2 separate regions of the Homo sapiens genome follow, and region 2 is reported to be linked to region 1. Evidence: microRNA targets listed by miRTarBase, many of them from high-throughput screens and not tested one by one. Region 1 holds a microRNA gene; the other region holds the end of a gene's coding sequence.

Region 1 (4,150 bases):
TACATATAGGATGAAATCATAGTAATAGCCATGTGCCCTTTTGATGCAATCACACAGCTACATGTGGACACCTCTATATGTGATTGGACAAAAAGGCTGCATGGTTGTCAGTCACACCTATTTAAGCCTCCATAAAACCCCCAAAGGACAGGGTTTGAAGAACTTCTGGAGAGCTGAACAAGTGGAGGTTCCTGGAGGATGACTTGCCAAAGGAGGTTTAGGGAACCTAGGTGCCCCTTCCCTCATACTTTGTCCTGTGCATCTTTTCACCTGTATCTTTTGTAATATCTTTTAAAATAAACTGGTAAACAAAAGTAAGAGTTTTTCTGGGTTCTTTGAACTGCTTCAGAAAATTAATGAAAGCCAAAGATGGAGTCATGGAAACTTTGACTTGAAGACGGTTGGTCAGAAGTTCTGGAGTCTAGGACTCGTAATAGATCTCTAGTGGGGGGCATACATCAGGACTGAACTCTCAATCTGAGGGATCTGATCCTATCTCTAGCTAGTGTTGGAACTGAATTGTAGAACACCCAGTTAATGTCCGCTGCAGAATTTATTGCTTGCTTGGTGGTGAGGAGAACCCCACCCACCTACATTTTATAACAGCAGTCTTCTGTGTTGATGATTGCTGTGGTCTGAAAGCAGACCAAAAACCAAAAGATTAAAAAAAAAAAGTCAACTTAGTTAAATTAGTAGTGAAATGTTCTAGGCATAAGCTTTGCTGCATAGCTCCAATACAGTATTAGCCACAGAACAAATTGTGTGCATAATTTGAAATGTGCATGTAAAGGGCAGCCATATTTTTGTATACTGGGAATGTTGGAACAGGGTGCTGTGAAGCTTCTACTGCTTGTGCACATTGTCACTGATCTGCTGGCTTATTGGTTGTTGTGAAAAAGCAGCTCACCTTAGAGTTCTTCCAGTTCTCACTGATTATACTCCTTCAGCTTTTCTAAGTCCTTGGCCAGAGCATGCAACACTGCAGCATTAGTAGCCAGGCTCTCAATTTCTCCGTGTTTTGTTGCATCCCTTCCTTGAGTTTCTTTGGATCCTGGTTCAAGTCTGTGCTTATCTCTGTGAGGAAAGCTTCTCCTGAAGTTCATCTGCAACATAGGGATGAAGGCAAGGAGGCAATGAGAGGCTGACCCAATTTTCGGCTCCTCCTTGAAGGTTCCATTTCTCTTTGCTCCCCCTGCCTCACTTTACGTTCACCATTCCTTCACAACCATTGGCTTTGCCAACCTCAAGCCCAGTAGCTGAGGAAGAAGCAATGATTGTATATAATCTGCGCACCTAGCCCCAACATTTTTTTAAGGTAACATCTCCATAGTTAATTTATTTTGTATTATTTATCATTATTCCATTTCAGTAATCAAATTCTCACGGGTAAACTATGAATTTCGAATATGAGGTTACCTAGTCACACATGTATTTCTAGTGGCCGTATGAGCTTTTTCCTGTCCTCCTACCCACTGCTTCATGGGATATCTGACCAGAATAGTAAGTGGGAAAAACAGGATTTAAACCTATGCTATATTGATTTATATGCACTTATGCTTTTATTTTTACTTTTATTTTACTTTTTCAAACTTTTATTTTAGATTCAGGGGTACCATACAGGTTTGTTTTATAGGTAAACTGTGTCACAGGGGTTTGTTGTACACATTATTTCATTACCAGGTACGAAGCCTAGTACTCAATAGTTATTTTCTCTGTTCCTCTCCTTGCTCCCACCTTCCACCCTCTGGCAGGTCTCTGTTGTTCCTCTCTTTGTGTTCATGCTCATTATTTAGCTCCTACTTGTAAATAAGAAATGTGATATTTGGTTTTCTGTTCCTGCATTAATTTGCTCAGGATAATGGCCTCTAGCTCCATCCATGTTCCTGCAAAGGACATGATCTCATTCTTTTTATGGCTACATAGTATTCCATGGTATATATGTACAACATTTTATTTATCCAGTCTACCATTGATAGGCATTTAGGTTGATTCCATGTCATTGCTATTCTGAACAGTGCTGCAATGAACATACACGTATGTGTGTGTCTTTATACAGAACAATTTATATTACTTTGGGCATATATACAGTAACAAGTTTGCTGTCAATTCTTAGTCCCTTTTTTGGCTCTTTGACGAATTGCCTTACTGCTTTCCACAATGACTGAACTAATTTGCACTCCTTCCAAAAATGTATGAGCATTCCCTTTTCTCCACAATCTTGCCAGCATCTGTTATTTTTTGACTTTTGGGTAATAGCCATTTTGACTAGTGTGGGATGGTATCTCACAGTTTTTATTTGCATTTCTCTAATGATCAGTGATATTGAGAACTTTTTCACAGGCTTGGTTGGCTGCATTTGTGTCTTTGGAAAATGTCTGTTCATGTCTCTCGCCCACTTTTTAATGGGGTTGTTTGCTTTTTTTCTTGTAAATTTCTTTAAATTCCTTACAGATGTTGGATATTAGACCTTTGTCAAATGCGTAGTTTGCAGTTATTTCTCTCATTCTGTAGGTTTTCTGTTTATTCTGTTGATAGTTGCTTTTGATGTGCAGAAGCTCTTTAGTTTAATTAGGGCCCATCTGTCAATCTTTGTTTTTATTGCAATTGCTTTTAGCATCATCATCCTAATATTTTTGTTGGAGCTTTTGTCAAGAATGATATTTCCTAGGTTATCTTCCAATGTTTTTATAATTTTAGGATTTACATTTAAGTCTTTAATCCTTCTTAAGTTGATTTTTGCTTATAGTGTGAGGAAGGGATCCAGTTTCAATCTTCTGCATATGGCTAGCCAGTTCTCCCAGCACCATTTATTGAATAGGGAATTCTTGCCTTATTGCTTGTTTTTTATCAGGTTTGTTGAAGATCAGGTAGTCTAGGTTTTGAGGGAAACTACCTCAAAATAATAAGAGCTATCTTTGACAAATCCAACATCATACTAAATGGACAAAAGCTGGAAGCATTCCGCTTGAACATGGGCACAAGACAAGGATGTCCTCCCACCTCATTCCTATTCAACATAGTATTGGAAGTTCTGGACACAACAGTTAGGCAAGAGAAAGAAATAAAGGGGTATCTAAATAAGATAAGAGGAAGTCAAAGTATCCCTGTTTGCAGACAACAGAATTCTATATCTAGGAAACTCTATAGTATTGGTCCAAAAGCTTCTTCAACTGATAAACAACTTCATCAAATTTCAGGATACAAAATCAACATATAAAAATCACTAGCATTACTATACACCAACAACAGTCAAGCCAAAAGCCAAATCTGGAATGCAATTCCATTCACAAATGCCACAAAAATAATCAAATCTACAATGAGAATTACAAAACACTGCTCAAAGAAATCAGAGATGACACAAACAAATGGAAAAACATTCCATGCTCATGGGTTGGAATAATCAATATTGTTGAAATGGCCATACTGCCCAAAGCAATTTATAGATTTAATGCTATTCCTATCAAATTACCAATAATGTTCTTTACAGAGCTAGTAAAAAACTATTTTAAAATTTGTATGGAACAAAAAAAGACCTGGAATAGTGAAGGCAATCCTAAGCAAAAAGAATAAAGCTAGAGGCATCATGCTACCTGACTTCAAGAGGGCTACAGTAACCAAAACGGGATGGTATTGGTACAAAAACACACACATAGACCAATGGAACATAATAGAGAGCCCAGAAGTCAGGCCACACACATACAACCATCTGATCTATGACAAAGCTGTCAAAAACAAGCAATGGCGAAAGGACTCCCTGTTGAATGAATGTGCTGGGATAACTGGCTAGCCATGTGCAGAAGATTGAAACTGGACCCCTTCCTTACACCCTACACAAAAATCAACTTAAGATGGATTAAAGACTTAAATGTAAATCCTAAAATTATAAAAACACCGGAATATAACCTAGAAAATACCATTCTGAACAAAAGCTCTGACAAAAATCTTAGGTGTTCATTATAATCTGTGATGATTATTTTTATTTCTGTGCAGTCAGAAATACCCTCTTTGTCATTTCTGATTTTGTTTATTTGTTTTTTTTCTCTTTTCTTCTTTATTAGTCTAACTAGCAGTCTATTTCATTAATTTAAAAAAAAACAGCTCCTGGCTTCATTGATCTTTTGAATGGTTTTTCATGTCTCAGTCTCCTTCA
Region 2 (4,000 bases), not on the chromosome of region 1:
TTCACAATGACCCAGCAACATGGGAGAGGGTGGGGGCTGGATTTCAGCCCAGCCACTGTGCTGATGGTGCACAGCCCTTTAATGCTGTGTATCATCTCTTTTCTTCACAGTGCCATCTCTGTGGAGCTGTACTACATCTTTGCCACAGTATGGGGTCGGGAGCAGTACACTTTGTACGGCATCCTCTTCTTTGTCTTCGCCATCCTGCTGAGTGTGGGGGCTTGCATCTCCATTGCACTCACCTACTTCCAGTTGTCTGGGGAGGATTACCGCTGGTGGTGGCGATCTGTGCTGAGTGTTGGCTCCACCGGCCTCTTCATCTTCCTCTACTCAGTTTTCTATTATGCCCGGCGCTCCAACATGTCTGGGGCAGTACAGACAGTAGAGTTCTTCGGCTACTCCTTACTCACTGGTTATGTCTTCTTCCTCATGCTGGGCACCATCTCCTTTTTTTCTTCCCTAAAGTTCATCCGGTATATCTATGTTAACCTCAAGATGGACTGAGTTCTGTATGGCAGAACTATTGCTGTTCTCTCCCTTTCTTCATGCCCTGTTGAACTCTCCTACCAGCTTCTCTTCTGATTGACTGAATTGTGTGATGGCATTGTTGCCTTCCCTTTTGCCCTTTGGGCATTCCTTCCCCAGAGAGGGCCTGGAAATTATAAATCTCTATCACATAAGGATTATATATTTGAACTTTTTAAGTTGCCTTTAGTTTTGGTCCTGATTTTTCTTTTTACAATTACCAAAATAAAATTTATTAAGAAAAAGGCTCATGCAGTTGGAGGTTTTGGTCTGGATATAGGAACTCGAGCCCTGCTGTTAAGGGCACGGTCCTTTATAAAGCCGAGCTGGCCACTGAATGCCCGAAGCTCGAGTTCTCCAACCCAGCTTGGGAACTCCCGGCGTGGGGAACCTACATTGCCAGAGTCGGGTTTCCGCGATTCAGCCGGTGCTCAGCCTAACGGAAGTGGAGGAGCCGGACCTCTTTGTGGGAAGCGAATTGAATCACCTTGGCAACCCGCGGGGCGTGCAGCAACGCCCTTTCCTCCGGAAGTGGGTGTCAGAACCTCCACGTGCTGTCCCTCCCCCTCCCCTTTTCGGCCCAGTAGCGGCGGCTCAGTTGCTGCCATGGAGTCAGCCGGGCTAGAGCAGCTCCTACGGGAGCTGCTGCTACCGGACACCGAGCGCATCCGTCGGGTACGGAGCAGGCGTAACCGGGCCAGGGCGAGCGGGAGGTTGCGGGAAAGGCCCAACTCTCACCCCTAGCTTCCCCCCAGGCCACGGAACAGCTCCAGATCGTTCTTCGGGCCCCCGCCGCTTTGCCGGCTCTCTGCGACCTGCTAGCCTCGGCGGCCGACCCCCAGGTGAGACCCCTGACTCTCCCCTCCGAGCTTCCCACTGTACGCCACCGGTCAAGCCCCAGTATTCGCCCACTGCGGTCCGCTCAGCACCTTCCTGCCCGGACCCCCACGTGCTTGCTTCCTCGTCCTAGATCCGCCAGTTTGCGGCCGTGCTGACCCGCAGACGACTGAACACCCGCTGGCGACGGCTGGCGGCGGAGCAACGGGAGAGGTGGGCTGGGCCTGGGGTGGGGCGGGGCCAGGCGGAGACTTTTCTTGGGCAGGCTGGGTACCAAACACCTGCCACCTGTGTTCCAGCCTCAAGTCCCTGATCCTGACGGCCCTGCAGAGAGAAACAGAGTAAGTACCTACCCACTTCTCTCGGGATCTTGACGACTTTGTCTAGGTTTCTGCCTTCCTTTTCGGCTCCAGGCTGGGACTTGTGGGGCAGGGACTTCAGTTCTAGACGCAAGGTGGAGTGAGGATTTTAAGGCTGTTTTGAAGACTAAAGTTCTTGAGGAAGGGTGATGATGATCTGCCAAACCCAAGTCAGAAGAATAAGACTGAAATTCAGGCTAAGTTAGACTGAACTTACCAGATTACATGCCCACAGTGCTGTTGGGCTCCCTCTGAGCTGCTGTCTCATGTGTCCCAACTTGGCAAAGACCCTGTGCCCACACCTCCTGAAAGTTTCTGTCCTGGCTGCCCCATTGAGCCTGGCCACTGTGTGCAGAGGAAGGTATTGAAGGGTGATTGGAGGAGATCTCTCCTGTTTGCAGGCACTGTGTGAGCCTCAGCCTGGCCCAGCTCTCAGCCACCATTTTTCGAAAGGAAGGCTTGGAGGCCTGGCCACAGCTTTTGCAGCTGCTTCAGCACAGTACCCACAGCCCCCACAGCCCAGAGAGAGAGGTACCATCACATGGTTGGCAGGAGGGAGGGCCTGAGAGGCTGGATAGACCTTGTAAGCTTGCTCTCCCATCCTCTATTCTTGGACAGATGGGGCTTTTGCTGCTAAGTGTGGTGGTGACCTCCCGGCCCGAGGCCTTCCAACCCCACCACCGGGAGCTTCTTCGGCTTCTGAATGAGACTCTTGGTGAGGTGGGCTCTCCTGGGCTGCTCTTCTACTCCCTGCGCACTCTGACCACCATGGCTCCCTACCTCAGCACTGAAGATGTGGTGAGATGTGGGCCCTCGTTATCTTTGACTCCCTTTCCTCATGCCTTCATGTCCTCACCCGTAAAAGTTACAAAGCTGCTTTGGATTCTTTACCTGCCTGTGGCCCTTCCTGACAATTGAGAGGGGATGCTGTAGGTGGGCCTGGCTGTTATGCCTGGGCTCCTCCTCGCAATTCAGGCTGTGAGGAAGCTGCCAGCTGCTGGGGTGTGAGATTGGGCTGCATCATGCTCTCTGTGATGTGTCCCTCAGCCTCTCGCTCGGATGTTGGTGCCCAAGCTGATCATGGCCATGCAGACTCTGATCCCCATAGATGAGGTGAGGACAGGTGGGCAGGAGCTCTGTTGGAAGGAGAGTGCAGAAGTGTCCAGTTTGGCCCACTGAAGAAGAGCATGGTAACCTTGTGCCTTGTTTGTCTGTCAGGCAAAGGCCTGTGAGGCCCTTGAGGCTTTGGATGAACTGTTGGAGTCAGAGGTGCCGGTCATCACCCCCTACCTCTCTGAAGTCCTCACATTCTGCCTGGAGGTGAGCCTGGAGTGGACATGGCCCCTGCTACATGCTCTGCTGGGACTCTCCTTCCCTGTCGCTGATTTTTATTATTCTGTGGACAGGTAGCTAGAAATGTGGCCCTGGGCAATGCGATACGCATACGTATTCTCTGCTGCCTCACTTTCTTGGTCAAAGTCAAGAGCAAGGTAAGTGAGTGCCCATTGACACACATCACCCCACCCCCATCTCCACCCTTAGTCTCACTCCTGGGGCTTTCGGTCCATCTCAGGGTATCTAAAGTACTGTGGGGGTTCAAGCCTTGGCCTGGCCTCACCCCAGCTCCTGCCTGGGAGGTTGGGAATTTTCTGTCAGACCCCTTATGGCCTGGAAGACTGGAATTTTTAATGTGAGCCCATCCTGGGAGCAGATTCTTAGGGACACTGTTCCACCTTCTCTGTCAAGGCCTTACTGAAGAATCGTCTCCTGCCACCCTTGCTGCACACCCTTTTCCCCATTGTGGCTGCTGAGCCCCCACCAGGCCAGTTGGATCCCGAGGACCAGGATTCAGAAGAGGAAGAGTTGGAGATTGAGCTGATGGGGGAGACTCCCAAGCATTTCGCTGTACAAGTGAGATGTGGGGCAGGACAGAGGGGGAAGGTGTTAGGTGGCTGTGGGACGTTGGGGAGGCAGAGATGGAGTCAAGCAAAGTAAGTCTCCCCATCCCATCTCAGGTTGTGGACATGCTGGCACTACACCTGCCCCCCGAGAAGCTCTGTCCCCAGCTGGTAAGTGTGGCTCTGTCCTTCTGGTGTCCCTACCTCCAAGTGTGCCTAGTCCCCCTGAGGCCAACGACGTTTAGACCCTGGGAGGTGTGAAGGCCTATTACCACAGGAATGGGCAGGCTCTTGCTGGGGTTTCAGAAGCGTGCCACATGCTTCCCTAGATGCCCATGTTGGAAGAGGCTTTGCGGAGCGAGAGCCCATACCAGCGCAAAG

The links. Region 1 holds the annotated microRNA hsa-miR-8060 (CCAUGAAGCAGUGGGUAGGAGGAC, at 1,460-1,483, opposite strand). A microRNA usually pairs through its seed, bases 2 to 8, with sites in the 3' UTR of a target mRNA and lowers its output. Matches are read on the target gene's strand: a 7mer-m8 pairs with bases 2 to 8, a 7mer-A1 pairs with bases 2 to 7 and ends in A, and an 8mer does both.
Region 2: miRTarBase lists TM9SF1 as a target of hsa-miR-8060. Seed matches in the 3' UTR shown: 7mer-m8 at 542-548.

The regions. Positions count from the first base shown.
Region 1 is chr3:96,357,339-96,361,488 of GRCh38, reverse strand. MIR8060 (microRNA 8060) reads right to left here and starts at 1,525; the gene lies at 1,450-1,525.
Region 2 is chr14:24,185,919-24,189,918 of GRCh38, reverse strand. TM9SF1 (transmembrane 9 superfamily member 1) reads left to right here. Exons shown (of 6, transcript NM_006405.7): 6 at 111-770. The coding sequence ends at 504. IPO4 (importin 4) reads left to right here and starts at 1,103. Exons shown (of 30, transcript NM_024658.4): 1 at 1,103-1,200; 2 at 1,281-1,367; 3 at 1,496-1,575; 4 at 1,662-1,703; 5 at 2,123-2,252; 6 at 2,340-2,519; 7 at 2,769-2,834; 8 at 2,940-3,041; 9 at 3,128-3,211; 10 at 3,468-3,632; 11 at 3,737-3,790; 12 at 3,949-4,000. The coding sequence starts at 1,132. RefSeq lists silencers at 1,532-1,651, 1,897-2,107.